Regions from separate parts of the Homo sapiens genome. Here regions 1, 2 and 4 are each reported to be linked to region 3. Evidence: microRNA targets listed by miRTarBase, many of them from high-throughput screens and not tested one by one. Region 3 holds a microRNA gene; each other region holds the end of a gene's coding sequence. Distances are from middle to middle.
What was found. Region 3 holds the annotated microRNA hsa-miR-3929 (GAGGCUGAUGUGAGUAGACCACU, at 4,995-5,017, opposite strand). A microRNA usually pairs through its seed, bases 2 to 8, with sites in the 3' UTR of a target mRNA and lowers its output. Matches are read on the target gene's strand: a 7mer-m8 pairs with bases 2 to 8, a 7mer-A1 pairs with bases 2 to 7 and ends in A, and an 8mer does both.

Region 1 (7,948 bases), 3.9 Mb from region 3:
GCTAACACGGTGAAACCCTGTCTCTACTAAAAATACAAGAAAATTAGTTGGGCATGGTGGCGGGCGCCTGTGGTCCCAGCTACTCTGGAGGCTGAGGCAGGAGAATGGTGTGAACTCGGGAGGCGGAGCTTGCAGTGAACCGTGATCGCGCCACTGCACTCCAGCCTGGGTGACAGAGCGAGACTCCGTCTCAAGAGGTTTCTCTTTACCTTAGCTCTATGAGGTGTTCTAAAAGCCAGGTCGATTCTATGGCTGTTCTGTCTAATCATGCTCAGTCTGTTCTCAAGATCTTTCAGACAAAGCATGATCCAGAGCTAGGCAGGATGAAGCCACTTTGATAGGAATACTTTCCAGCCACTCACAGCCATATTCTTGGGTAGGGAAGTGAACTGGAAGTAGTGTTCTTTGTTTTGATTTTTTGCTTCCTGAGCTACTATATACTAAGCTAAGCACTATATGTATATATCACATTTTATTCCTTGTAGCAACTTCCGTGAAGTGAATACTGTATTTTTATCTTCATTTAACTGAAATATCTGAAGCTCAAAGGTTAACTGAATTATCTAAGAACAAGCCAGTATCAAGACCAAACCTTGTGTTCTGCTGTACTTTATGACTTTCCTTTGGATTTTGTGGGGGTTTTTTTGTTTTGTTTTTATATTGCAGAATGGACTTTGAATAGAGATTTCACCTTTTGTTATTGCGGAAGAGGAGAGGGATTGCAGAGGATAGGGTTCTTAATGGTTTTTGTTTTACTTATAGAATGTGCTGACATAGAATTTTGAATTCCACTTTGACACATAGGAGGCAAGGAGAAAGTTTTGTTTTTAACATTTTCTTCAGAAGTAGCCATTCAGTGGTACTGCTGGCATTGGTGAAGCCTGTGGGGGAGCCTGAACTTTGCTCCATTTTACAGGTTTATGTGGAACATAGCACTCTGACCAGGATTTGTAATGGTGACTAAAAACTTCTCATTATATCAGATAAAAACTTCAAATTTCAAATCAAGACTGTTTATTATGACAGTAACTAGTTAATCGATAGACAACAAAGTGAAGTAGAAAATTCATTAGCCCCAAAGCAAAAGTCCTGGGTTCTATGACAGGCTTTGTGGAACCTTGGACAAGTCTCGTAACTTTAGTTCCCTACAAAATGAGGGTGTTGCATTGACCCTCATCCTCTAGTTTCTGAAATACTATTGACTCTGAATATTTCTAATTATTTTTCTTTATTGTAGGATTTTAATATAATTGAGGAAGCTCTTATCCGAAGAGTCTTAGACCGGTCACTTCTTGAATATGTGAATCACTCGAACACCACATAATTTTATTAAAACGAAGGGAAAAGGGACCACTGAATTGCACCATTTAAGATGCTGCTTGAACAAATGGGAGGGAAGTTGTCAATGATTGATGGGCAAAAATGTACAACACAGTTATGTGTTTGTCCATGTTTATTGTTATAGTGCATTTAAAAACTGCTTTAATTTTAATGGTTTAAATCTGTTTTACATCCTTGAGATTCTTACACATCTAACAACAAAAAAAATTATCTACATCAGTCATTGTTACATGGAAAAGACAGGTGGTAGGCAAGTAGGTGGAGGATCTCGGTTTGCAAATTAGATAATACTCTGTGTATAATGCTACATATCAATAACTACCATCATGGTTAGGCACGATAACTAATCTTTGTTCTGTGTAAAAAAATATGGAGAGTGAAACAAAGTGCAGACATTCAAAGAAATAAGAAATCTGCTCCAATGCTCTTGTTCTAATCTCTAATAGGTTAACGTTAATAATCTTGTATGGGAGTTGGAAAGGAAAATTTTGGAAGTCAAGAAAGTCCATTTAGGCCGGACGCGGTGGCTTACGCTTGTAATCCCAGCACTTTGGGAGGCTGAAGCAGGCGGATCACAAGGTCAGGAGTTCGAGACCAGCCTGGCCAACACTGGTCTCTGTGAAACTCCGTCTCTACTAAAAATACAAAAATTAGCTGGACGTGTTGGCGGGCATCTGTAATACCAGCTACTTGGGAGGCTGAGGCAGAAGAATCACTTGAACCCGGGAGGCAGAGGTTACAGTGAGCTGAGATCGCACCAGTACACTCCAGCCTGGGTAACAGAGCTAGACTCCATCTCAAAAAAAAAAAAAAAAAAAATCCATTTAACCAAATTGTCTTACATAATACTGTAACAAAACAAATTTTGTGTTAGAAAAGTATACTTAATTCTTTGACTTTTTATAACTGCATACATAAGAATTCAATATTTTTCAAATATTTATAGCTTATTTAGAAATATTTCTATAATATAAGCAATTTCTTAAAAACCATCAGATGATACTTACAGTATAAGTATTCACATCCAGACTTTTTAGTAGAAAACCCTAAGGGCTTTGATATCTTTTTTGATTGTAACATTTTAAAAATTATGAAATAAAAGTACTGAAAACCAGACACAAAATTTATAGCTGAATGCCTTATTATAAGGAAATACTCTTTTAGGACTCAGCCAGTCACCCCACGTGTCCTTTTTGTGTCCTGTCACAATTACAACCCCACAAAAGTAACTGCTAGACTGATTTAAATGGTAATCACTTTGTTGCATTTGATTACTGCTGCCACACCTAAATGCATATATCTATATTTTAATATTATCAATTTAAAGTTGTTATTAAATGTATATTTTATTTTACATCTCTTTTTTAATCTAGAAGTTCCTCCTTCTTTCCAGTTCCTTAAAATTTACCTGGTGAAGAACCTGATCCTAGGACCTATAGAGTTTCCCATACTTTGTATTTTGCTGATTGCACACTCATGGCACGGTTCAGCACATTGCCCTGTCCTCTCGATATTAGCACACAGTGCAGGTTCAGGCACATTGAATTTGAGAAGACTTAGGTTCAGTCCTTTGGCAAGACTGTAAATCACGGTGTCTTTCTTTCCTTCCTCCTTCTTCTCTCTCTCTCTCTCTCTCTCTTTCCTTTTCTTTCTCTTTTTTTCAGAGTTGCACTCTGTTGCCCAGGCTGGAGTACAGTGGCACGATCTCGACTCACTGCAACCTCCATCTCCCGGGTTCAAGCAGTTCTCCTGTTTCAGCCTCCCAAGTAGCTGGGACTACAGGTGCACGCCACCATGCCCGGCTAATTTTTGTATTTTTAGTAGAGGGGTTTCACCATAATGGTCAGGCTGGTCTTGAACTCCTGAACTCAAGTGATCCACCAGCCTTGGCCTCCCAAAATGCTGGGATTACAGGCATGAGCCACCATGCCCAGCTAATTTTTGTATTTTTAGTAGAGACAGGGTTTCACCATAATAGCCAGGCTGGTCTCAAACTCCTTACCTTGTGATCCGCCCACCTCAGCCTTCCAAAGTGCTGGGATTATAGGCGTGAGCCACTGTGCCCGGCCTACAGGGTTTTTATCTAACCTTTCTGTTACAACTGTACCTCTCCTTCTGTACTGAAAGTCCTGGTTTTCAAGAACACAGGGCACGATAGAATTAGAACATCCCACAATTACTCATTTCTTTTATTTATCTTACACTTACAGCTGTCTCAGAATAACAATAGAAATACAACCACAAATAATATGGCAATTGAAACAATTAAAAAGTTTTCATTTGCTTTTCTCATTCTTTCCCAATTTTTTTTTTTTTTTGAGATGGAGTCTCGCGCTCTTGTTGCCCAGGCTGGAGTGCAATGGCACGATCTCGGCTCACTGCAACCTCTGCCTCCTGGATTCAAGCAATTCTCCTGCCTCAGCTTCCCGAGTAGCTGGGATTATAGGCATGCGCCACCACGCCCTGCTAATTTTGTATTTTTAGTAGAGTCAGGATTTCTCCACATTGGTCAGGCTGGCCTCAAACTCTCGACCTCAGGTGATCCGCCTGCCTCGGCCTCCCAAAGTGCTGGGATTACAGGTGTGAGCCACTGCGCCCGACATCCCAATTTTTAAAATAGTTATACTATGTCAACATTTTCAGAACATACTGGTATAGCATACTGTACTTTCTTCCTTTTATCCCCCATTTATTCTTAGTTCTTCAACTATATATTTAACACTTGCCCCCAGTTTTGTTTTGTTTTGTTTTGAGGAGGAATCTTGCTCTGTTGCCCAGGCTGGAGTGCAGTGGTGTGATCTTGGCTCACTGCAACCTCCGCCTCCCGGGTTCAAGTGATTCTCCTGCCTCAGCCTCTCGAGTAGCTGGGATTACAAGTGGGCACCACCACACCCGGCTAATTGTTGTATTTTTAGTAGAGATGGGTTTTGCCATGTTGGCCAGGCTGGTTTTGAACTCCTGACCTCAAGTGATCCACCTGTGTTGGCCTCCTAAAGTACTGGGATTACAGGTGTGTGCCACCGCGCCAGGCAATTGCCCCCAGTTTTTATTTGATGGCTCTGACTGTTTCTCATATCTGACTCTTTAATTATGAATCCAGGGCATAGATTAGTATCTCCATCTTGTAAGGATGCAAAGAAGCCATGAAAATAAGTAATATCAACTCCTGAGGATAAAACGTTACTTGACTAGAGTTAGCTTTTTAATTGTAATCATTTATAAACTTCTTTGTTCCTTACATATAAGCATAGTCATAACCATGGTACCCAAAATTTTCTATAAGTTATTGTAACTCCTTAAAGGTCTTGCTACAGTTCTTTTATCCAGTACAAATAATTGGGAAAATGTAAAGCTGAATGAAATCTAGTGAGCCTCATATCCTCCCTTTTAGATATTGATTTTAAGTTTGCTTTTCACAGCTGCTAAAAAGTAACAACTGATTTTTAGTTCCACAACCTCTCTTTCTTCAATTTAGATGGATCATACAATAAAGCAAAATCTGGCTGGTTACAGTGGCTCACACCTATAATCCCAGCACTTTGGGAGGCTGAGGTGGAGGGTCTCATGAGCCCAGGAGTTCAAGACCAACCTGGGCAATATAGTGAGACTCTTTCTATTTAAACAAAAACAAAAACAAACAAACAAACAAACAAAAAGCTGGGCATGATGCACACCTTTAGTTTCAGCTACTAAGGAGGCTGAGGTTGGAGGATCACTTGAGCCTAGGAGGTCAACACTGCAGTGAGCTATGATCATGCTACTGCCCTCCAGCCTGGGCAACAGAGCAAGACCCTGTCTCCAAAAACATAAATAATTAAATATAAATAAAAATAAAGCAAAATCTGTTGGGAAACGAGAAAAAGGAGAGGAATTTTTCAGGAATAATCATAAAAAGAAATGATCATCAGACTGAAAGTCCAGAGCCTGAGAAATGAAAACATATTTTTAAGCATTGGTGTTGACCATGCAGACAAACTTTTGTTAATTCAGAGCGATACAAAAGGCACTTTGAATCTATAAAACTTGAAAAAGTTAAAAATTGTATGTCGGATAAAGCTTTAAGTCATCTGTCACTATTAACCTCAGTGCAGCAATTCTGACTCCTGTGCCTGGATTCCTTTTATGATAATTTTGCCACCTACAGGACAGATTAGGTGCTGGTCGCCTGAATTATTTTGTGTTCTGAATTATTTTGAGCTCTAAAATGGTAAAGTACAAATACTCATTGTTTTACTGTGCCTTTGGCCTTTTATAAAAAGGTATTTATAATTCGTTGATAAAAACCAATATTTGAAGCTGTTGATTACCAACAAAAAAGTTTCACTCTCTTTATAGTGCTTCAGGATACAACTTTTTCAGGGCCTTATTAGAGAAAAACTGATTCACATGTTATTCTTCTAAAGCTAAATTATTAAAATGTAGGTTGAAAGATTGGATTGATTGTGAATCTACACTAAAGATATGGTTCCAGGCAGACCTCCTTAGAGACCTCCAGGCAGACCTCCTTACTGTCTTCAGTGATGTTTAATTTCATTACTGTTACTGGGTGCCAAGTGTCTTTCATTTGGAAGTGAACTTACTCCAGTTATTGAATGTTTATCATATCATAATTTGCATTTTTCCAACATTGAAGGTATTTTAAAAAGTCACTAAGAGATTCATTCTTTTATTATTCAACTACAAAAAAATAGTGTAATGATCAGAATTTAAAATGTGTGATTCTTTTTCTTCTGTAAGTATGTATTGCTATGATAAATAAAAAATGGCAGGACCATTGTTTTTATTAAAATATCTACTGTGTCTATTCTTAAACATTAATCTTGATTACTATTTTACTCAAATTTAATAATGCTTTTTAAATTTTCATCATTGAGCAACATCTATCACAAAGGTGTACATTCATTTAGGCCAGTACTTCTCAACTGGGGGTAATTTTGTCTCCCAGCAGACATTGGCAATGTCTAGATACATTTTGGGTTGTCCTAACAGGGCTTGGGTGTGCTAGTGGCCTGAGATCTAGATACAGGTCAGGGATGCTGTTCAGCATTCTACAGTGCACAAGACAGCCCCTTGCAACAAAGAATTATCCTGCGCAAAATGGCAATAGTGCCTAGGCTTAGAAACTCTGATTTGGTCAACATAATACTGAGCACTATGGATTTATTATTTGTTCTGCTAGCAAGAGGCTTCACTGAAATTTAAAAGGTAAGATGTAGATAGATTCTTCCCCCTGCTAAATCCATACTAAGTTTTGAATGGCTGTAGCTGTCATGCGTACCCATATGTCATGAGCATATTAATTTTTTGATTTTTTGCAAGAACACATACAGGACAGAACACAAGTGTTACTGACGAAACCTCTGATGCCTGTTTGCTGAGTGACGTTCTAGATGATTGAGGGAACCCAGATCAGTTGAGAAGATTTACCTTCATCATTTAGATTATCTTTATTGAAATAAGACAAAATATTACAGAGGGACACTCATGTCTGAGATCCTTGAAGCTAATAGTTATGTTTTTGTATTATTACTAGAAAATCGTGTGGTATTTTAATCCTAAAGATTTCAGCAAAGACAATGCATGGATCTTAAGGCTAATCATTGCCACCAAAATAGCCATGTAAGAAGCCCAACGAAGGAGAATCACAGGGAGTAGTATTGATCTAGGTGAACTGGATTATGGTACAATTACAAGTCCCAAATCCCAGTGCTCACCCAAAGTCTACTGTGGTTCCTGGCTCTTCTCCAGGGAAGCTGTTCTCCAGCTTCAGAATTCCAGGGTACTTTCATCTCATGGCATTTGTATATCACTGTGTGTTCCTATATCACCCCTCGCAACAGGCTGCTGAGTTGGCTACACAGGTAATTTCTGTTCATTATTTGCCAATGCAAGTCACATGGCCATATGTAATGTCAAGGCACTGAGGAAATCCAGTCTTCTCATGTAGAAGACAACTGGATACTGAGGCATAATAGTAATACCAACCATGAAGGTACAAGCCAGGCAGAGTTGACAAGACAGGAAGTACACAGGGTAAAGACATTAAAAATATGTGTGGAAAGGAGGGGTGAAAAGTCAAAATGAGACTAGCTTTCTAAAACATGAAGTCATGTTCATTTTTGCCATGGTAGTATTTTCTTTTTCTTTTCTTTTTTTTTAGAGATGGAGTCTTGCTCTGTTACCCAGGCTGGAGTGCAGTGGCACGATCTCAGCTCACTGCAACCTCCACCTCCCAGGTTCAAGCAATTCTCCTGTCTCAGTCTCCTGAGTAGCTGGGACTACAGGCATGCACCACCATGCCCAGCTAATTTTTGTATTTTTAGTAGAGACGGAGTTTCACCATATTGGTCAGGCTGGTCTCGAACTCCTGACCTCAGATGATCCGCCTGCCTTGGCCTCCCAAAGTGCTGGGATTACAGGCGTGAGCCACCACGCCTGGCCCTGCCATGGTAATATTTTCATTAATTTTACTTAAAGTTTGGGATTATTTTACAAAATGAAAGAACTGTCAGTTTCTCAGACATAAGATAGTGATTTCTTTTTTTGAATTGTTCTTTCTTATTTATTAACAAAAATGCCAAATATGTTCTCTGTCCCTTACAACAGT
Region 2 (7,948 bases), not on the chromosome of region 3:
ACAGACCTTATAAATTAAGGCCTATACACATTCCCAGTCTTTTCATATGGAACAACTCATAAAATAACTTTCTCAGGGTCACTTAAGTCATAGATGAAGTAGAAACTGGAACCCACATCTCCAAACTATTACTTCAGTATCCTATCAACACACAAACACTGTTTGCCCACTGAATAATATATTTGTTGTAGGCACCATCAATGATCAGGGAATTGTGCGCCTGCTGGGAAATTATTAGCCCAGAACAGGAGACCTGGTTATTGATTAAACAGAGCTGCTGCTGGTTAGTGTTAGGCCACACGAGGCTAGATCTACAAAAGTGAGGCAACATCCAGTGGCTAGAGAATGTGCACTGAGGCTCTGCTAAACGCCACAGTAGGCAAGCATGGCTTAGTACACAGAAGACTTCAGAAGACAAACAGCACATATTTGTTTCTGGAGATTTAAAAAATAATAACATTCCAGTGTTACTGGGAGACTGATTTACTATTCAGAGACAAATAAGTTGGAGAGAAATTTTTTGTTCAACCATACTAAATACTAAGGCAAGGTATTGCATTATTACAAGGTAAGACTAGAGGGACTAGAGACTTACTTTTGATGCATGAGTGTCTTATTGTTTCAATGAAGTATCATTTTACCTTCAAAACTTTAGCTCCGGCCGGGTGCGATGGCTCACTCCTATAATCCCAGCACTTTGGGAGGCCGAGGTGGGCGGATCATGAGGTCAGGAGATCGAGACCACAGTGAAACCCCGTCTCTACTGAAAATACAAAAAATTAGCCGGGCGTGGTGGCGGGCGCCTGTAGTCCCAGCTACTCGGGAGGCTGAGGCAGGAAAATGGCGTGAACTTGGGAGGCGGAGCTTGCAGTGAGCCGAGATGGTGCCACTGCACTCCAGCCTGGGCGACAGAGCGAGATTCCGTCTCAAACAAACAAACAACAATAAAAAAAAACCTTTAGCTCCTCTGAGCAAGTGCGACTAGAGCATAATCATTGGCTATCTTAAAAATATACTCTGATGCCAGGTGTGGTAGCTCACACCTATAATCTCAGACTTTTGGGAGGCCGAGGTGAAAAGATCCCTTGAACCCAGGAGTTCGAGACCAGCCTGAGTAACATAGTAACAAACCCTATCTATACAAAAAATACAAAAATTAGCTAGGCATGGTGGTGCACACCTGTAGTCCCAGCTACTTAGGAGTCTGAGGTAGGAGGATCACCTGAGCTCGGGAGGTCGAGGCTGTGGTAAGCCATGATCACACCACTGGGCAATCCAGCCTGGGTGACACAGCAAGACCCTTTCTCTAAACAAAACAAAACACTCTGGGCTGGGAATGGTGGTGGCTCATGCCTGTAGTACCATCACTTTATGAGGCTGAGGCGGGAGGATTGCTTGAGCTCAGGAGGTTGAGGATGCAGTGAGCCAAGATTGCACCACTGCACTCTAGCCAAGGTGACAGAGCAAGACCTTATCTCAAACAAACAAAAACCACAGACACACACACTCACTCTGGTCACTTTGGCAGGGTTATTTTCATTAAAATTTATGTTATCTCTCAACTCCCAGGATCCTAGTCAGGTCTGTGGTTTTCTGATCCTTGAGCCCAGAAACCCACCTTAAGTTGTTACAAACACTAAGATCATTAGCATTATTTATTTTAATTCACAGACCTTAGATGAGAAGAAACTGGATATCTGATCTAGTTCATCCTCATTTCTTGCCACATGTTCTCTCCATGATATGTGCCAAGGGGCAGTCTAGCTTGAATATCCCACTGATGATGTGAGACTTACTGTTTCCTGAGGCATTCATTTAATCTCTGAGTACTTGGACACTCCCTATGTATAACTTCTCAAGCCTTCCTGAATGCACTCTTATCTCTGCAAATTGTGATAATGAGTCAAAGCAATTTCTGGTGTCATCCTTTCTGGCTTGACTGAAGAATCACAAATACTCCTTTTATTGGCATTGTTACCAAGTTCTACCAGAGTGGCCAAGTGTATCTGCTTGTTTAAGCAGGGAGAGGAATTCATGCTAAAATTCATCTCTAAAGGAAGATACCTTGGCATTCATTACTAAAGGTGACTGATTGAGAAAGGACCTTGTGGTTTGGGATGGAAGATGAGTACAGAGGAGTTTCTGACTCTAGGTGGTTCTGAGGTTATGTATAAAGCCAAGGTGACACTTCCTTGTTTTGAGACCTTTTCTCTTTCCTTTTTTTGAGACAGGGTCTTGCTCTGCTGCCCAGGCTAGAGTGCAGTGGCATGTTTACAGCTCACTGCAGACTTGACTTCCTAGGCTCAAGTGATTCTCCCACCTCAGTCTCTCTAGTAGCTGGGCCTACAGGCATGCACCACCATACACAGCTGATTTTTGTATTTTTTGTAGAGACAGGTTTTCACCACGTTGCCCAGGCTGGTCTCAAACTCCTGGACTCAAGCGATCCACCCACCTCAGTCTCCCAAAGTGCTAGGATTACAGGTGTGAGCCACCATGCCTGGCCAAGGCCTCCTTCCTTCCTTCCTTCCCTCCCTCCTTCCTTCCATCCTTCCTTCCTTCCCTTCTTTCTTTTTCTTTCTTTCTCTTTCTTTCCTTCCTTCCTTCCTTTCTTTCTTTTTCTTTCTTTCTTTTTCTTTCTTTCTTCTTTTTTTCCTTTCTTCTTTCTTTCTTCTTTCTTTTTCTTTCTCTTTATTTCCTTTCTTTTTTTCTTTTTTTTGAGACGGAGTTTTGCTCTTCTTGCCCAGGCTGGAGTACAATGGCGCAATCTTGGCTCACCGAAACCTCCACCTCCCGAGTTCAAGTGATTCTCCTGCCTCAGCCTCCCAAGTAGCTGGGATTAGAGGCATGCACCACCACACCTGGCTAATTTTGTGTTTTTAGTAGAGACGGGGTTTCTCCATGGTGGTCAGGCTGGTCTCGAACTCCCAACCTCAGGTGATCCACACGGCTCGGCCTCCCAAAGTGTTGGAATTACAGGCGTGAGCCACTGCGCCCGGCCAAGACCTATTTTCTATCAGTATCCAAGTCTTAGGATATCGTCACTCAAAACAGAGATGATGTCTTCTCAGAGAATTTAGTGCTGTATTTTTCATACTGTCATCTCCAGCCAAGCCACCCTGGAAATCTATGTATAAATACATAAAATACTAAATTATGAGAATTAAGTTATAGCTTAGCACAATCTTGATATCAGAGATCAGAACTTAGAACTCACAGAAAATTTCAGAAGCAGTTGTCTGCTTTCTGCATTCTGATCCATGGCTAGAGACAGAGGACTCAATTGCCACTTCTGAATTAATGCCTCCCTTTAGTCATTGGCTTTTTGTTTTTGCTTTATTGTTTTCATTATGATTTTGAGACAGGGTCTTGCTCTGTTGCCCAGGATGGAGTGCAGTGGCGCAGTCTCGGTCCACTGCAGCCTCTGCTTCCCAGGCTCATGCGATTCTCTCACCTCAATCTCCCAAGTAGCTGGGACTACAGGCGTGTGCCACCACACTCAGATGGAATTTCACCATGTTGGCTAGGCTGGTCCTGAACTCCTGGACTGAAATGATCTGCCTGCCTCGGCCTCCCAAAGTGCTGGGATTACTGCACTTTGCAGTGAGTCACTGCACCTGGCTCGTTTCCTTATTTGTATTCATTTTTTTATCTTACCATTTGAAGGTGTTGGTAAATAACGGACACCAAAAAGGAGGCAAGCAAGTAATGAGGCCTGAAGATTACTGAAGACCCACCACCTGGAAAGTCCAACTCAGTGGTTCTTAGGTGTTCGGGAGGGGCTCACTGAAGTCTCGACCTCCAGGGCTGAAGCAGTGCTACCGCCTCAGTCTCCCGAGTGGCTGGGACTACAGGGTGCACCACCATGCCTAGCTAATTTAATTTTTTGTAGAGATGGGGTTTTGCTATGTTGGCCAGACTAGTCTCGATCTCTTGGCCTCAAGTGATCCTCCCACCTCAGTCTCTCAAAGTGCTGGTATTGCAGGTGAGAGCCACTGTGCCCCGCCTATTGTTTGGTTTTGTTGTTTGTTTCTTGCTTCCTCAAACTCATAACTTGCCATTTTGTTCAAGGGCCACCCATTCACAGAACAGTGTGCCTGGGGCTCCTCCAGCTGGCTTCACACAATTAGCTATTTACCAAAGCAGAATTCACCTGTGTGATTCTTGAATCATTAGGCTAAAGGACAGGGCCATCCAAATCTTTCCTGCTTGAACAGAAATTACACTTTCTCAGCACAAAACAGGCATTTCAGCCCTAGTCTTCAAGTAGTAATGGGAAAATCAGAGAATGTTCTTGGGATATGCAGTGGGTGCATCTGGCACAAGGGCCACGGAAGAGAAATACTTTAGGGTTCGGGTCACTAGAGTTCAGGGTTCAAAGGAATTAATGGAACGTGAACTGGGGCTGATTCTGCCATTCTTCTGACTGTAACTACAAAGTTTATACATTTCTCTCCCTGGAAAACTTTCTTTCCTATCAAAAGGGAAAGGAAAACCAACCACTATTTCTCCAAAAGCTATTCTCTTGAAGAACCAGAATCTTGCATTATCTGGATAGTTTCTAGAGAAACTATGCAGATTTTCACCCTTAGGGACTCTTTAAGCCTTAGGGTTTAAAAACCACTAGGCTGCTTCCCATTTTGCAGGGCAACTGGGACTACGGGACCCTAATTAACTGAAATCCTCACTGTACCAGATGTGGAGGGCAGCTGGTGGTAGCGGATGGCCAGATGGCAGTAAATCTCCCTCACCAAGGCTTACACCAAGGCTGTTGTTCACCGGCAGTAGAGCAGCTTAATTTCAGTTCCTTTTTATTTATCCTGCTTAGAAACGGCAAAAGAACGTCAGATGAGGAATATGGAGGAGGAGAAACAAGAAGTGGGGAGAAGGGAGATAATTTTTCTTTTCTTTTTTTTTTTTGAAACACAGTCTTACTCTGTCGCCCAGGCTGGAGTGCAGTGGTGCGATCTCAGCTCACTGCAAGCTCCGCCTCCCGGGTTCACGCCATTCTCCTGCCTCAGCCTCCTGAGTAACTGGGATTACAGGCACCCGCTACCACGCCCGGCTAATTTTTTGTATTTTTAGTAGAGATGAGGTTTCACTGTGTTAGCCAGGATGGTCTCGATCTCCTGACCTCGTGATCCACCCACCTCGGCCTCCCAAAGTGCTGAGATTATAGGTGTGTGCCACCGCTCCCAGCCAGGAGGGAGATAATTTTTCACAACAAGATAATGTCCCTTAGATTATCGAGTGCTGTCTACATTTCAGTGCAGATTCTTGGAGTTATTTCAAAGTTTCTTCTGATTTGATCTAGAAGAACAAGATCTAGAATCTGGGGCAAGATTATCCAAACCTGAAATCAAGGCCTCAGGAATACCTTATACCAAGTCTTGGAATGTGGGTTTTCGTATAAGCAGCTCTCTTCTTTACAACAGCTTTGCTGTTTTTGAGGTCAGAACAGGAGCCCTCTTTCTCAATGACGATTAAAATAAAACTTCAGGGCAAAGTTTTTGAATCTTAGCAACACATGGAAACATATGTCCTGTTGCCAAAAAAATTTTAATTGCCTAATCCAAACCAGAATATTTAGATCAACCTGTATACTATATATTATCTCTGATATACTATATCTCTAGTCCTCAGCATTATTCTTCATAAAACCAAATACCCACTTATTTGCTGAGTGGCCAGATCTAAGAGGAAGCTTTTCTGCCTTTACAGGGATGGCCTTTTGAATAATTGAGCAGACGAAGCATTGGAATATGAAATATTTGTAAATCACTGGTCAGCTCTAGTCAACCTCTTGGTGCTTTTGTTTCCTCTGGTCCCAGATGTGTCTCCTGGCTCTGGAAAGGGAGAGGCCAGTAGTAGGATCAGAAAAGGGAGCAACCAACCAGAAAACACCTAAGTTATGAGGTTTGTGCTTTTCCTGACTTAGAGAAAGTCCATATCTCAGGAGATAAACAGTTCTGGCTGCAGCTCTCTGGAGTAATCCCCTGAAATGGTGCCAGAGGGAGCATGTAGGGTAGCCAAGATTCTGACTCCTTGAACCATGGTCTAGCAAAGCCCTCAGATCCTGCATGAGAGCGCTTCCTATTTGTAAAATACCCTTGGGATCTCTCCAGTGAGGCTTGGGGGCCAGATCAGCCCCATTCCTAGCTGAGACTTGCAGAGCTCCTCTGAGAGATTGGAACTTCGCATTCCTTGAGATGGACATTCACATTCTCTACCTGCTCAGCCCTCAGCGAGCCAGCCCCACTGCCTCTGCCGCCCTTCTCACACACACAAGCCTGCTGCCGCAGTTGCCAGAGCATTCGGTCAAAGCAGGGCGCCACAACCACAGAGCAAATGAGGGAAGTGGGGCCGAGACACAAACATCCTGTCCTCATGACATCAAATGGCTCCAGCTTGAGAATCGGGGTCACTGCCCAGTGACATACACAAACGTCTCATCCCTCTAGCCACTGCCAGTAAGAGGGCATTTTCTCCTGAGTCCATGGATTGAAAAAGTGCTATCCTTTGGCTTGTGATGTCAGTGACAGGTGACAGTGACTGGAACGCGCCGCTGCTGACCGGATGAGTAGGGATATGTTGAGCAGAGGCCAGGCAGGAGTTCTGCTGAGGATGAAGTGAGTGCAGGCTCGCAGGACGTTCCTTCTCTTTCAAGGCACCAATTTAAGAGAGAGGGACTGAATGAGGAGCACAGAGCTGGAGCTCCCTCTGTTCAGTCCGCCCCATCTTTCCAGGACTCCCCCTTGCCCAGCTCTGTTTTTCTTTGCAGGACTTGGGGGTTCTCAGGCCAGGTCTTTCACCTTGTGTATGATCGCTTCCAGTTAAAGATCTCCTCCAGGTTGGAAGAGGAAGAGACTTCCCGCCTCTGCAAGGCTCCCCCACGACGACGGCCCCCAAGGAAGGAAGCTCTGTGCCTGCTCAGCCCTTTAATCCTCTCCTCCGTTCGGAAGAACTCAGTCAAGGCCCGGAAGGACTCCAAGATGACCTCATGGCTCCAGGCTGGCAAGGGCTCCTGGCGCAGGAAGCCACAGTGGCCTCCGTGGCGACTGAGCAGGAGGAAGAAGTAGGGGTTGCTGTGGAAGAGTTCAGTTGTCAGAGTGTGGTCTGGGGGTCCACACACGGGGTCGTCAGCACTGCAGATACACAGCACAGGCACGGCTGCCTCATCGACATCCCGGAGCGGGTCGTTGCGGTCCCAGTAGGTATCCCAGCTGATGGGGAAGCTTTTGGTGTGGCAGAAGAGAGCCTCCTCAAACTCTCGAAGGGAACGGCTCCTGAACAGTCTGCTGGTGTCCACAGTGTCCTCCAGGGCTGTGGCATACCTGGCAGCGAGGTGTTTAGTGGGGAAGGTGGGAAAGAGAGGGAAGAATGAGAACATCAGGTGACAGCAGATGAGACAGACAGACAGCCCGCAGGCCAGATCTGTCCACAGAGGCTTTCTTTGGCCATTTAGGGCTTCGAAAACGTTTAATTTCATGGCCATCATTTAAAACCAGATAAGGCTGGTTGTGGTGGCTCACGCCTGTAATCCAAACACTCTGGGAGGCCAACGAGGTGGGTGGATCACTTAAGTCCAGGAGTTTGAGAACAGCCTGGGCAACAGGGCGAAAACCCATCTCTAAAAAAAAAAAAAAAAAAAATTAGCTTGGCATGGTGGCTCAGTCCCAGCTATTCAGGAGGCTGAGGTGGGAGGACTGCTTGAGCCTGGGAGGTCAAGGCTGCAGTGAGCTATGATTGCACCATTGCATTCCAGCCTGGGTGACACAGAGAGACCATTTCAAAAAATAAAATAAAATAATATAAAATAATAAAAGTGGCCAGGCGCGGTGGCTCATGCCTGTAATCCCAGAACTTTGGGAGGCTGAGGCAGGTGGATCACGAGGTCAAGAGATTGAGACCATCCTGGCCAACACGGTGAAACCCCATCTCTACTAAA
Region 3 (7,948 bases):
TTAAAGCCTCTTTAATTAAAACAGTGAGATGCCAGTGAGTGGACAGAATAGAATATAAATTTCAAAATAGACCACAGTATACATGGAAATTTAGAATACAATAAAGGTTACATCTCATATCATTAGGACAAAGATGGACTTTTTAATAAATAGCCTTGGGACAACTAATTAACCATTTGTAAAAAGATAAAATTAAATTATACCTCACACTTTATACACAAACTCTGAATATATTAGGAAAATAACGTAAAAATTTTTAACAAATCCATACAAGCACTAGAAGAAAACATAGGTGAATTTCTGTTTAACTTGGGTGTGAAGAAAGAACTGTGACCTAAAATCCAGAGGCAATAAAAGAAAATATTGATTAATTTACATTTATAAAAATAAAAGATGTCTGAATGTTAAAAAACATCATGAACAAAGTCAAAAGACAACTGACATGGTAATGGTAGGGAAGTCTGTGTAAGACCAATCTGCAGATAACAACTACAAATTCTGGAAGAAATATTTTTTAAAACTATCTAAAAATAACAATCTAAAGGCACTGAAAGGGGACCAAAAGAAAACAGAAACTGGACAGGAGTCTGCCCTTCAAAGAAGTGACCCACACTAATGAGTTTTCTGTTTTCACAGCTTCTTGCCTGAAGGCAGCAAGATCCCAGTTGGCACCTCCCAGGGCATCTTGAAATCAAATAGAAACTTGCAGTCTTACTGGCTTGGGGAAATCAAAGGATAAAACTCAGAGCTATCACCACAGCTGAAAAGTGCTGAGAGAAAGCATTAAAAGGAGAGAGCCATGGAAGAGGAGCTCCAAATTCAGAATATAAACTCTGTAAATCTCTCAACGCCCCTGAACTATGCATGTATGAGACAGACTTCAAGCAGCCTATGTAAGACTAAAAGAATTAGACAAAATGTCAGCTGTTTCTCACCACAGCTATGACAGATTTTTGGAATTTGAGTTCAACCAAGTTAATTTTCTGCTTAAATAGAACTTTTTTTTTTGACACAAAGTCTCGCTCTGTCACCCAAGCTGGAGGTCAGTGGCACAATCATAGCTCACTGCAACCTCAAGCTTATGGGCTCAAGCAATCCTTGGCCTCAGCCTCCCAAGTAGCTGGGACTACAGGTACATGCCACCATGTCTAACTTGTCTTTTAATTTTTAGTAGAGAGGAAGTCTCCCTGTGTTGCCCAGGCTGGTCTCAAACTCCTGCGCTCAAGTAATTCTCCCACCTTGGCTTCCCAAAGTGCTGGGATTATAGGTGTAAGTCACTGCACCTGGCCTAAAACAAAAATTTAAATCTCTTCAGAGGAACCATAAGAGAAGCCATAGGCTGTATAGCACGTTGTCCACAATGTCCAGAATAAAATAAAAATCACTAGACATACAGGTGAGTGTGTGTGCACACTCATGCACACACAAACAGGAAATGGCACTCCATATACAAAAGACAAAGGCAGCCCATGGAGATTGATCCTAATATAACCAACACGTTGGATTTAACAGATGAAGATTTTTAAAGCAGCAAATGAAACTATGTTCAAAGATGCAAAGAAAATAAGCTCCTAATGAATTGACAAATAGGAAATCTTTGCAGAGAAATAGAAACATTAAATATACCAAGCTCACAATTACAACATGTAAAATAAAAAATTCACTGGATGGGCTTAATAGAATATTGAAAATGTTAGAAGAAAGAACCTGTGATTTTGAAAAAAAGATTAATCAACATAATTCAATCTCAAGAAAAAAATTTAACCTATCGGATAATATCAAAAGGTATAACATAAATATAATTGGGTCTCCAAAAAAAGAGAGAAAGAATGAAGCAAAAATTAAGGTTTTTTGAAAAACAAGGGCCAAAATGTCCCCAAATTTAGTGAAATAAATAAATATGTATATATATATATATATATATATATACACACACACACACACACACACACACACACACACACACACATATATGCTATGTGGAGATACATACAAAAAATATGCAAATACAAATATATATGCAAATACAAAAATATATTCAGAAAAAACACCATGAACAAGTAGGTTTATCACAAGAATGCAATGTTGATTTAACATATTAAAATTGTCAATGTCACATGTATATCTCTACATGCATATATATATATACACACATATGTGTGTGTGTATGTGTGCATATACATTACAATCAAACTTCTGAAATCAGAGGTTAAAAAAATTATTGGCTGGGCATGGTGGCTCATGCCTATAATCCCAGCATTTTGGGAGACTAAGGTGGGAGGATTGCTTGACGCCAGGAGTTCGAGACCAGCTTGAGCAACATAGTGGACCCCCATTTGTGAAAAAAAAAAAAAAAAAAAAAAAAAAAAAAAACCAGCCAAATAAAAATGATAAATTAAAGTCTGGGTATGGTGGCTCATGCTTGTAATCCCAGCACTTTGGAAGACTGAGGCAGACATATCGCTTCAGCTCATGAGTTTGAGACTAGGCTGAACAACATAGCAAAACCCCATCTCTACTAAAAATAAAAAAATTAGCCGGGTGTGGTGGCATGCACCTGTGGTCCCAGCTACTTGGAGGGCTGAGGTGGGAGGCTCGCTTGAGCTTGAGAGGTGAAGGTTGCAGTAAGCTGAGATCACATCACTGCACTCTAGCATGGGTGACAGAGGGAGACCCTATCTCAAAAAAAGATAAATTGCGTAGAAGGGAATAAGAATATAAATGATGGCCAACTTTTCATCAGATAAACATAGGCCAGAAAATAATGGAACCACACAGTTAAAGTGCGGGGGTAGGGGGAACACTGTCAACCTAGAATTTGATATCCAAACAAAATATTCTCCAAGAATGAAAGTAAGAAAAATATTTTCAGGCAAATAAAAACTACCTGAGTTCATTGCTGGCAGATCTACATTATAAGAAATGCTAAGGCATGAGAAAATAAAGCCAAAACTAATGAAAGAGAAAGCAGACAAACAACAGACAAATAACAGAGCCAAAATATGGTTCTTTAAAAATACGAATAAAAACTATATACCTCTACCTGGACGAAGAAAGGAAAAAAGAAGACACAAATTAGCAATATCAAGAATGAAATCAGGGACACCAGTATAGAGCCAATAGACATTTAAAACATAATAAGGCAATATATGAATACTTTATGCCAATAAATTTGTCAATTTGGATAAAATGGAATAATCCTTTGAAAAATAAAAATAACACACAATGAAAAAATGTTACTAGCCTTATACTTAGTAAAGAAATTGAACGTATTATCAAAAATCTTCACACAAAGAAAATTCTAGACTCAGATAGTTTCTTTGTTGATTCTGTCAAACATTTGAGAAAGAAATGACATCAAATATAGACAAACTCTTTCTAAAACACAAGAGAAGAGAACACTGTCTGAATCACTTTTATGAGGCCTATATAAATTTGATACCAAAAAACTAGCAAATATATTACAATAAAAGAAAACTACAGAATATCCCTCATGAACCTAAACAAACTACTAGCAAATCAAATACAAAAATACATGCAAAAGTTCATATTCCATGAAGAAGTAGGTGTATCACAAGAGTGCAATGTTGATTTAACATATTAAATTGTCAATGTAATCCACCATATTAACAAAACGAAAGAGAAGACAAATATGTAATCATTTCATAAGCAGAAACATTATTTCCCTAAGTTCAACTGCCATTTATGATAATGGTGAAATATTGTCCTCTTTTATTATCAAGAACAAGCTAAAAATGTTTACTGTCACCACTTCTGTTCAACATTGTACTGGAGGTCCTAGGCAGTAAAATAAAACAAAATGAAATAATAGGCATAAAGATTGAAAATTAAGAAGTAAAACTCCCTTTGTGTATAAATGACATCATTGTTTGCAAAGAGAATCCTGAGGAATTTATGTAAAAATAGCAAGGTCACAGAATACAAGATCAATCTGAAAAAATCAATTATATTTCGATTTACTACCAGCAAAAAAAAAGTTTAAAAACCAATTTTATTTATAATGATATCTAGAACATTAAATACTTAGAAATAAGGTTAACAAAAGGTATTTAATAACTCTATGCAGAAAACTATGAATTTAGAAGACCTAAATACATGGAGAGGCATTTCATGTTCATAAGTTGAAAAACCCAATGCTTTTATAATATACAGTCTCCTCAGATTGATCTATAGATTCAATGCAATCTGACTGATAATTAGGTCAAGTTTTCAGAGAAACTGACATATTGATTCTGACATTTATATGGAAATACTAAGGTCCTAGGATCTCTAAATTAATACTGACAAGACAGAATATGAGGACTTCCACAACCTGAGTTTGAGGCTCCAGTAGCCAAGCTAATGTACACAAAGCAAGTTTATGCAAATACATGAATAAAACACAACAGGCAGCCTAGACCTAGACTCACACCTATAAGGTTACTTAATGACTGACAAAGCCACCGAAGCTCCAATGGGAAAAGTAAGCGCTTTTCTAGAAATGATGCTGGAAAAATAGATATCCATATGGGGAAGAAAATGAATCTCAATTCCTATCTCAACTCATGCACAAAATTAATTCAATATGGATGATAGACCTAAACATAATACAGCTAAAATTATAGTAGTCCCCCTTTAACCACAGTTTTGCTTTCCATGGTTTCAGTTACCCTCAGCCAACCAAAGGGACATGTGGCTCATCATCCACTCACATCCAAAAAACTAAAAGAGAAATTTTAGAAATAAATAATTCATCCCTTTTTAAAAAAATTTTTTTGAGACAGAATCTCACTCTGTCACCCAGGCTGGAGTGCAATGGCGCAGTCTTGGCTCACTGCAGCCTTGGTCTCTCAGGCTCAAGCAATCCTCCAACCTCAGCCCCCTGAGTATCTGGGACTATAGACATGCACCACCACGCCTGGTTAATTTTTGTATTTTTTGTAAAGATAGGAGTTCGCCATGTTGCCCAGGCTGGTCTTGAACTCCCGGGCTCAAGTGGTCTACTCACATCAGCCTCCCAAAGTGCTGGGATTACTGGTGTGAGCCACTGCACCTGGCCAACTCATACGTTTTAAATTGTGTGCTGTTCTGAGTAGCATGATGAAATCTCAGGCCATCTGTCCCGTCCCTCCTAGGATGTGAATCATCCCTTTGTCTCGTGGATCTACACTGTAGATGCTACCTGCCTATGGGTCATTTAGTAGCCATCTGGGTTATCAGATCAACTGCCGTGACATCACAGTGCTGATGTTCAAGTAACCCTTATTTTAGTTCGTAATGGCCCCAGTGTGCAAGAATAGTGGTGCTGGCATATCATTATAATTGTCTGTTTTATTATAATTTGCTGTAATCTCTTCCTGTGCCTAATTTATAAATTAAACTTTATAATAATATAATATTATATATAATATAATATAATTTATAAATTAAACTTTATAATAATACATATAGGAAAACAACACAGTATATATACAGTTCTTTAGTATCCATGGTTTCAGGTATCCACTGGGGGGTCTTGGAATATGTCCCCAGCAGATAAGCAGGGTATACTATATAGAACTGTCAGGAGAAAAATATTTGAAACCTGAGAATAGGCAAAGATTTCATAGGTCACAATTATAATGATATGCCAGCATCACTTGTCCATGACAAGGTGCTTTACAGAGGCCATTGTCTCCTTTTAGCTAGGCAGTGAAAAGCACATTACAAGTAAAGAAAACAGCAGTTTTCTTAGACTGTTTACTTTGCAATAAAGGAATACCTGAAACTGGGTAATTTATAAAGAACAGGGGTTTATTTGGCTCATGCTTCTGCAGCCTATACAGGAAGCATAGGGCCTCAGAAGCTTCCAATCATGGCAGCAGGTGAAGGGGAGCCAGTATATCACGTAGTGAGAGAGGGAGCAAGAGAGAGAAGGAAGTCTCAGGCTCTTTTAAATAACCAGATCTTGGGCGAATTGGTAGAGCAAGAACTCCCTCATTACTGCAAGGATGGCACCAGGCCACTCAAGAGGGATCCACCCCTGTGATGCAAACACCTCCCACTAGGCCCACCTCCAACATTGGGGTTGCCATTCCAACGTGAGATTTGTAGGGCACAAGTATCCAAACTATATCAATGTCCTCTGAGTGTGTGTGTGTGCACGCGTGAACTCATGGGGTTTCTTATTCTCATAAATTCTGGCAGTCCTCTATTAATTACTTACTTCAGACACAAATTATAACCAGATATGGGACAATATAGTTACTAGGGAAAAAAGTTTACTTTCTAAAAAGAATTGGCATATTCTTTGGTTAATTAAGAGGAGAAAGTATCCAGAACCCTTTTCCAGTTCTCTTTGCAGAAGCGTATAATTGCTTTAAGGGTCTTTCTGGCGAAAAGTGATTAGAGGATACATTCCGCCAAGCACCAGGCTGCTCCCTCGGCATGTCCCCCACTTCTGCTGATGCACTAACGTGTCTCAAATCAGTTGCCAATTGGCAGGTGAATCCTATAAAACTGCAAACCTCTGGTGGAGAAACATTATATAAAAGGAATGTAATTGCAGGAAGCTTTCCACCTGCCCCATTCTAGAGGCATCGCAAAGCAGATTTTGTCTAAAGGCTTACCAGAAAGTGAGAGGGCTCCAAAAGGACTTAGAAGGCCCATCAAGCACAACCTGGCATTGTTCATCCCTAATAATTATATGTGCAGAGTTTTATAGTAGCTCTTCTCCTAGTGGTTCTTTTCATCAGCCTTGTCAATGGAGTGAGAATAAACCTCCCTTCCTGTCTGCCACCCCACCCCACCCCCACTGTGAAGCACCTGGGTTTTGTGTGGGGTTGACTCCCCCGTGCATCCCAGCATCAGCCCGGGCCTGACCAGTCTAGCCCAATCAGGGCATCCCCCACTCCCCTTGCTGTGGTATTTTGTTCAGGGATGAACTCCTGCAGAGAGAGTATGTCTTCATCAGAGACAACTGGCAGGCCTGCCCTGCCGAGGAAAGCCAGCCTGAAGACAAAGCCCACACAGGGCAAGAGAAACTAAGAGAAGTTAAGACAGAACCAGAACCCTGATCAAACCACACCTGGAGCCCACCAAGCATTTGTGTCGCAAAAACTTAGTGAATCCCATCTAATGTTCAAACCTGTGCATTGGATTAGGTTTTTAGTACCCTGCACCCAAAACCTCCTCACTAAAATACTACATATCCTCTGAAATATTAAACAAAAGAGAATGGAAACTACCAACTACTCATGTAATGAGTTTTAGAAATCCTGGCCTTGAAAGATGTTGTGTTCAGGAACGACTATATAACCAACATAGGTTGTATATTTTCATGGGGCAATGACACCTCTAATAATTCACGCATCATTTTCTACTCACGCACTGCTTACTTCTATAAGGATTTCACATGGCTTACAACAAAATACCTATATATTAGGATAATAAAATAAGAGTTAATTATCCAGGGGAAAAGATGGATATATCAGAAAACATCAGTGAAGTATAACTCTTAGGTTGGAACATACAATTTAGCTCCGAGCATTCTGTCAGCCAAGGTTAAAATTATTACAGGTTGAGTATCCCTACTCTGGAAAGCTGAAATCTGAAATGCTCTAAAATCCAAAACTTTTTAAGTACCAACATGATGCTCAAAAGAGACGCTCATTGGAGCATTTCCAATTTTAGATTTTTTGACTTAGGGATGCTGAACAACTAAATGTAATGCAAATATTCCAAAATCTGAAAAATATTGAAATCTGCAACACTTCTGGTTTCAAGCATTTCAGATAAGGGATACTCAACTCAACCTGTATCTTACTATCTGAAAAAGAAAAATATCTATGTTTGCTGGGAGGTATGACGCTTTTTCCTAGCAGTAGTAAGTAAGCTCTAGAGCAGCTGTAGTCAGTTTGGGAAGTTTAGGCCCTTGAATGCTGACATTAGCTGAACCACTTTAGCTTAT
Region 4 (7,948 bases), not on the chromosome of region 3:
GTCTCGAACTCCTGACCTCAGGTGATCCATCTGCCTCAGCCTCTGGCAGTGCTGGGATTACAGGCATAAGCCGCCGCCATGCCCGGCTGAAGTTACCGTTTTTAATTTTTTGCTAGGCAAAAGTGAAGTATTTTTCCCAATTATTGGTTTAGGACCGATTAAACAAGTTAAAGATAGTCTAGTAAAAGATGTCTATTTTTTTAATCTGATGGAGCACATGACCGAAGTAACTAAATCCACCAACAGCCCCTCTGCACAGGGGTTTCTGGTGCTGTCCCTGAGGCTTCACGTTTGCAGACAGACTGTTGAGAGAGGAGAATCTCGTATATTTTGGACCTGCAGCCAGGATTCCTTAAAATTAGCAATGGAAGCAAGTCCAGTCTTACACTTGTATGAGTAATTTAATCGCCTCAAACACTCTTTCTTTTTGCAGCCGAGTGCTTATTTCTACAGATGTCTGGGCCAGGGGGTTGGATGTCCCTCAGGTGTCCCTCATCATTAACTATGATCTCCCTAATAACAGAGAATTGTACATACACAGGTAAGGTGCAAGCTCTCATTGGCTTCACTTCTGTGACACATTTACTAAATCTTGATTGTTATATATACTAACTGTAATATTATTTTATTCCTGAAGAATTGGGAGATCAGGTCGATACGGCCGGAAGGGTGTGGCCATTAACTTTGTAAAGAATGACGACATCCGCATCCTCAGAGATATCGAGCAGTACTATTCCACTCAGATTGATGAGATGCCGATGAACGGTAGGAAATCGTCCAGCTCTACTGTAATTGTAGAGGGAACTTCCCTATTCTTAGTTTGGGGCACCTGAGTTTGTTTTTTTGTTGTTGTGGGTTTTTTTGTTTTGTTTTTGAGACGAAGTTTCGCTCTGTCACCCAGGCTGGAGTGCAGTGGCGCGATTTCGGCTCACTGCAACCTCTGCCTCCTGGGTTCAAGCAATTCTCCTGCCTCAGCCTCCTGAGTAGCTGGAATTACAGACACGTGCACCATAGCCAGCTAATTTTTGTATTTTTAGTAGAGACGGGGTTTCACCATGTTGGCCAGGCTGGTCTCGAACTCCTGGCCTCAAATGATCTGCCCACCTCAGCCTCCCAAAGTGCTGGGATTACAGGCGTGAGCCACTATGTCTGGCCTGTTTTTTGTTTTGAGAAGTCTGTTGTGAGGTTTTAGTTAAATTTACGTTAACAAATTTTCATTTTGTTTGTGTTGTTCCTTAATCTGTTTCTTTCTTCACTTTCAGTTGCTGATCTTATCTGAAGCAGCAGATCAGTGGGATGAGGGAGACTGTTCACCTGCTGTGTACTCCTGTTTGGAAGTATTTAGATCCAGATTCTACTTAATGGGGTTTATATGGACTTTCTTCTCATAAATGGCCTGCCGTCTCCCTTCCTTTGAAGAGGATATGGGGATTCTGCTCTCTTTTCTTATTTACATGTAAATAATACATTGTTCTAAGTCTTTTTCATTAAAAATTTAAAACTTTTCCCATAAACTCTATACTTCTAAGGTGCCACCACCTTCTCTAGTAACTTACTGTGTAGTCTTGGGTCATTTCACTCACTTTTCTTTTTTTCTTTTCTTTTTCTTTTTTTTTTTTGAGACAGTCTCCCTCTGTTGCCCAGGCAGGAGCGCAGTGGCGTGATCTCCTCTCACCGCAAGCTCCACTTCCTGGGTTCATGCCATTCTCCTACCTCAGCCTCCCACGTAGCTGGGAGTACAGGCGGCCGCCACCATGCCAGGCTAATTTTTTTGTATTTTCAGTAGAGACGGGGTTTCACCGTGTTAGCCAAGATGGTCTCGATCTCCTGACCTCGTGATCCACCCACCTCGGCCTCCCAAAGTGCTGGGATTACAGGCGTGAGCCACTGCACCCGGCCCATTTCACTCACTTTTCTAATCTTTTTTTTTGGAAAGAGTTTCATCGTTGATGAGTTTTGCTCTGCTGCCCAGGCTGAAGAGCAGTGGCACCATCACAACTCATTGCAGCCACAACCTCCTGGGCTCAAGCGATCCTCTCACCTCACCCTCCTGAGTAGCTGGGACTACAGGTGCATGCCAGCACATCTGGCTAATATTTAAATTTTTTGTAGAGACAGGGTCTCACTTTGTGGCCTAGGCTGGTCTGTCACTCATGGGTTTAAGTGATTCTCCCATCTTGGCCTTACAAAGTGCTGGGATAACAGGTGTGAGCCACCATGCCTGGCCTCATTTTTCTAATTTTTTTTTTTTGTTGTTTTTTTGAGAGCCCAGGATCTCCCTGTCGCCCAGGCAGGAGTATAGTGGCAGGATCATGACTTACCACAATGTTGACAAACTAAAACAGATAATTATCTGTTTAAATATTTAAATTATTAAAGTATTTAAGTTATCTGTTGAAATATTTAAAGTAATTACCTGTAGCTTTATAGGCACACAGCACCACAGCTGCCCAATTTTTAATTTTTTAAATGTTTTTAAAGACAGGGTCTCCCTCTGTTGACCAGGCTGGTCTTAAACTCCTGACTTCAAGCAGTCCTCCCGCCTCAGCCTCTCAAAGTGCTGGGATTACACACATGAGCCACAGACCGGGCTCTAATATTTGAAATGGAAATGTTAAAACTGGCCCCTCCCTTCCTGAAATTAGTTGGGATGATAATCTTTATTTCCGGGTTAGGGTGAGCTTGGAAATAATTTTTAAATTTCATCAGGTGATTCTACTTGAAGGCATCTGAAATTCTATAGTTTATGAATGGAACTTCCTTTCACTGAAACTGTGACTGGACCCTTGCTAGCCAGCTGGTGGCTGGTAGACCAGCTGCATCATCAGGAGTTGGTTAGAAATGCAAGTGCTCGGGCCCTGTCCTGGCTTGCTGAGTGAGAACCTGCAGGTAACAAGACTCCCAGGTGGCACTGCTGGCCGAGCGGGAGGAGCACGAGACTACAGGCCCAGGCAGCTTAATGAGTTCCTGGCAAGGAGGAACCAGATACAGGTGTGTTCAGGGCATTTGCTCAGCAGCAGTGGGGAGTGATGCCCACCACAGCTCTGGCCAGTGCCAGCCTCAATGTCCGTATCTGCAGGCGCCTGAGCTCACTGAGGCTCACCTGGTCTCATCAGGAGCTGCTGCCAGGCTTGTGTTAGAGGTGAGGAGTGGCTCAGGTTTCCACACAGTCACTCCGGAGGACGGAAGGCCTCCATTACCAGTAAGAATGATTCTAGATGAATAAGCACGTGGTGTTACAGTGGAGGAGGCAGCATTGGTGCCTTGGGGAGGAGATGGCAGGAGAAGGGGTGGGGCTTAAGCTACCCCACACACTGTCTAGGAAAGGTCATCCTAAAAGGAAAAATACAGCACAAGTGTTCATAAAAATGTCAAACTGTACTGACAAATCAGAAATGGTATGTGATTATCCAAGATTTAAAAACCACCAGTCCTAAAGGTTGACAAGGAAAGTTTCCAGACTTTCTGGAGAGCAGCCTGGCCCTTGGGCAGTCAGTGATGAAAATGCTATTTCCCTTTGGTGGTGTGTGGTTCTGCTGTAGACAGCTGACTGGAATGTGGACTTCTCCAGGAAGTTCAGCGTTGCTCCTGCCTATACCAGGGAAGGATGCTAAGTGCTCATGGATGGGGGCATGGTGCGGGACAGGGTGGAACATTTGCAGTGATGCTGGGAAGAGAAGGATACAAGAGGTAGAGAACTCATGGAGGTTCTTGGGAGGGTGGTTTGGGGCCAGGATCCTCCCAGAGTCCAAATGGAGTCAAGTTCAGGCAGGGGGTCTGCTGAGCCTTGCTAGGTAGGTATCACTGGGCCTCTGGTCAGGTGGAAAAACTGGCTCTAGATCCTGAGGGGCTTCCCAAGGTCCCCAGCAACTAAATCCAGATGAAAAACCCCTGGGTTATGTACTTCATTACAAAAGTATAATCTCACTGAAAAAAAACATACAAATGCATAATTTGAAAAAGTCATCCTTAATCCTCCTACCCAGATATAACTCACAATTTGATGACTGTCCATCCAGTATTTTAATTTATCTTGTACATCTACCTGTACATAAAGACCTTTTTAAGCAAAAATTGTAACCCACTTTGCCATTATTAACTCAGGTTTTTGCTTAGTAATGTATCATACATATTTCACTACGTTAAAAAAAAAAAAGCTACTTTTCCAGCCTCTATACCATGGCTCCTTTGGAAGCAGTTGAAGATTAATTAGAATAATCTTTTATTTGTTTATTTTTTTGAGATGGAGTTTCGCTCTTGTTGCCCAGGCTGGAGTACAATGGTGTGATCTCGGCTCACTGCAACCTCCACCTCCTGGGTTCAAGCGATTCTCCTGCCTCAGCCTCCTGAGTAGCTGGGATTACAGGTGCCCACCACCACACCTGGCTAATTTTTCATATTTCTAATAGAGTTGGGGTTTCACCATGTTGGCCAGGCTGGTCTCAAATTCCTGACCTCACGTGATCCTCCTGCCTTGGTCTCCCAAAGTGCTGGGATTAGGCATGAGCCACTGTGCCCACCCAGAATAATCTTTAGAAGTGATTTTCTTGATCAAGGTACATGTTTCAAATTAACGTTGCAGAAAGATTTTCCACCAATTTATACTCCTAATGGTATATTTTTTTTTTTTTTGTTTTGTTTTTTTTTTTTGGGTGGTTGAAATTTATTCAACAAATACATATAGGATGCCTTGTCTTAAAGCCAGGCAATTTTCCTAAAAGAAAAACCACATAAAAAGGGTTCTAACCAAGAGCTAGAGTGTCCTGACCCTTTGAGGTATGTCTAAAGTATAGAAATAGAATGGTAATGTTGATGCTGTTGGCATGTTTCTTTGTAGTAAGATTGTTTAAAATAATACATAGACATAAAATGTATGACGAAAATAGCACAGCACCGAAGAAAGGAGTAATGGAAGTATACTGTCAAGATTCTTACACTATTACTTGAAGGCAGATTGTGATGAATTAAAGATGTGAAACATATATAAAAGTGTTAAGCAATTTTTAGGTATGAACCTTTAAAGCAATACAAAAATGTGAAACAGAAATAAACAGCCAACGTAGGAGACAAAATAAGAGTTCTAAGGAATACTTAATCTAAGAATCCTGAAAAGGAAGGAAAAGGGAACAGAGAACTTACGAGATGGACAAATACAAAACGGTAGTAGGTTGAAAACAACCGTGTCAATAATTACATTTATTGCAGATTGTCTGTCTCACCTCAAACTAAAAGAAAAGCAAGCTAAACCCAAAGGAAGCAGAAGAAAGGAAATAATAAAGATGAGAGTAGAAATAAATGAATAGAAAAATAATAGAGAAAATCAACAAAACCAACGGTTCATTCTTTGAAAAGATCAACAAAATTGACACATCTTTAGCAAGTCTAAGGAAAAATAGGTTCAAATAACTAAAATCAAGAATGAAAGAGGTGATGGCACAGCCGACTGTACAGAATACAAAGTATCAGTGCCATGGATTGTTTGCCAACAGATGAACCTTGATAAAATGGAGAAATTCCTAGGACAAACAGATTAAATCAGTAACCAAACTTTCAACAAAGGAAAGCCAAGGCTTGTGAATCCTGCCAAACTTTTACAGAATTATCACCATCACAATTTTTTTTTTTTTTTGACGCAGAGTCTCACACTGTTGCCTGGGCTGGTGTGCAGTGGCACAATCTTGGCTTGCTGCAACCTCCGCCTCCTGGGTTCAAGTGATTCCCTTGCCTCAGCCTCCCAGTAGCTAGGATTACAGGTGCCTGCCACCACATCTGGTTAATTTTTTGTATTTTTAGTAGAGACGGCGTTTTACTGTGTTGGCCGGGCTGATCTCAAACTCCTGATCTTGTGATCTGCCCCCGTCAGATTCCCAAAGTGCTGGATCACGAAATCTTTCAAAAAATATAAGGCAGAACATTTCCCAACTCACCCTGAGGCCAGCATTACCTGATACCAAAACAAAGCTACCACAAAAAAAACTAGATCAATATCATATGAATATAGATGTAAAAATCCTCAAAAAACTGGCAAAACAAATCCAGCAACATATAAAAAGGATTGTACACTGACAAAGTGGGATTTATCGCAGGAATGGAAAGTTGGTTTAATATCCAAAAATCTGTCAATGTAATACACCCTATCAATAGAATAAAGGACAAAGTCCACATAATGATTTACAGATGCAGAAAAAGCATTGGACAAAATCCAGCACCTTTTCAAGATAGAAAATAAGAATGGAAGGGGGCTGCTTCAACCTGATAAACAGCATCGATGAAAAACCACAGCATTACCCGCTAAGGTTGGGAACAAAACAAGAATGCTCTTGCCACGTCTATTCCAACATTGTACTGGAAGTTACGAGCCAGGACAATTAAGCAAGAAAAGAAATAAGGCATCCAGATCGGAAAGGAAGAATCAAAACTCTCTAGTCACGGATGACATGATTTATACCTAGAAAATCTTAAGGAATTTACACATTTAAAAAATCACTTATCAGAACTTATAAATGAGGTCAGCAAGGTTGCAGAATATATGTTCAACATAGGAAAGCCAGTGTTTCTGTACACTAGCAGTCTGAACAACCTGAAAATGAAATTAAGAAAATAATTCCATTTACAATTGCATCAAAAAGAGTGAAATATGTAGGAATAAATTTAACAAAAGAAGGGCTATACTTGTTCACCGAAAACTACAAATAGCTTGTTGAAAGGCATTGCAAACCTAAATATATAAATGTCCCAGGTTCATGGATTGGAAGATAACTTTCCCAAACTGATTGATATAGTTAGTTAGGCTTTGTGCCTCCACCCAGATCTCATCTTGAATTGTAATCCCCCTAATCCCCACATGTCAAGGGACAGACAAGGTGGAGGTAATTGAATCATGGGAGCAGTTCCCCCCATGCTATTCTTGTGATAGTGAGTTCTCACAAGATCTGATGGTTTTATAAGGGGCTCTTCCCACTTCACTTGGCACTTCTTGCCACCTTGTGAAAAAGGTTCCTGCTTCGTCTTCGCCTTCCACCATGATTGTAAGTTTCCTGAGGTCTCCCCAGCCACACTGAACTGTGAGTCAATTAAACTTCTTTCCTTTTTAAAGCACCCGGGCTCAGGCAGTTCTTTATAGCAATATGAAAATGGACTAATATACTGCTCTGCAGTGTTTAGGAGAATGTGGAGAAACTGGAACCCCCATACATTGCTAGTGGGATTGTAAACAGGCACAGCCTTTATGGAAAACAGCTTGGCAGTTCCTCAAAATGTTGAACATAGGAGTTGACCTAGCAATTCTCCTCCTAGGTCTATACTCAAGAGAATTAAAAAATCTGCACACATAAACCTAATGTGTTCATAGCATTGTTCATAAGAGCCAAAAAGTGGACACAAGCCAGATGTTCATCAGCTGTAAGCAAAACTGGTGAATCCACACAATATTACTTGGCAATAAAAAGGCATGAAGTGCTGACACACTACAACCTGGATGAACCTCGGCAATATGCTAGGTGGAAGAAGGCAGACACAAAAGGCCACACGTGGTGTGATTCCATTTACATGAAACGTCCTGAACAGGTAGATCCATAGAGAGATTAGCAGGAAACCATTCACAGTGGTTTCAGGAGCTTGAGGGGGGAGGAGGGGGATGGGTGAAACAAGGAGTGGCTGAAAATGAGTATAGGGTTTCTTTTGAAGGTGATTCTAATGTTCTGGAATTAGATAATCGTGATGGTTGTACAAGTGTACTAACAACTGAATTGCATACTTTAAAATGGTAAATGTTATGGCATGTGAATTACATCTCAGCACAAATATCATGAGGAATCTCATGCATCCTCTAAAATTACACTTAAAAAGCAAAAAGCACGAGCAAGGGAAAACAAGCAAATTGCCTACTGCAAAATTAAAAGACAGATATTGTTAGGCTGGATTATAAAGCCATACACAACTATATACT

Region 1: miRTarBase lists RNF125 as a target of hsa-miR-3929. Seed matches in the 3' UTR shown: 7mer-m8 at 3,096-3,102, 7mer-m8 at 3,361-3,367 and 7mer-m8 at 4,190-4,196.
Region 2: the mRNA of ABHD15 is a reported target of hsa-miR-3929. The part of its 3' UTR that is shown has no 7-base or 8-base seed match.
Region 4: miRTarBase lists EIF4A3 as a target of hsa-miR-3929. Seed matches in the 3' UTR shown: 7mer-m8 at 1,715-1,721.

The regions. Positions count from the first base shown.
Region 1 is chr18:32,067,061-32,075,008 of GRCh38, forward strand. RNF125 (ring finger protein 125) reads left to right here. Exons shown (of 6, transcript NM_017831.4): 6 at 1,238-6,159. The coding sequence ends at 1,324. Among named protein-coding and RNA genes, the nearest start is that of RNF138, 21 kb to the right of the region's middle.
Region 2 is chr17:29,555,753-29,563,700 of GRCh38, forward strand. It overlaps ABHD15 (abhydrolase domain containing 15), which reads right to left. Exons shown (of 2, transcript NM_198147.3): 2 at 4,795-7,334. The coding sequence ends at 6,809. Among named protein-coding and RNA genes, the nearest start is that of ABHD15, 7.3 kb to the right of the region's middle.
Region 3 is chr18:35,929,094-35,937,041 of GRCh38, forward strand. It overlaps MIR3929 (microRNA 3929), which reads right to left and starts at 5,049; the gene lies at 4,995-5,049.
Region 4 is chr17:80,128,821-80,136,768 of GRCh38, reverse strand. It overlaps EIF4A3 (eukaryotic translation initiation factor 4A3), which reads left to right. Exons shown (of 12, transcript NM_014740.4): 10 at 434-541; 11 at 638-765; 12 at 1,263-2,400. The coding sequence ends at 1,279. Among named protein-coding and RNA genes, the nearest start is that of EIF4A3, 14 kb to the left of the region's middle. RefSeq lists a silencer at 3,046-3,211.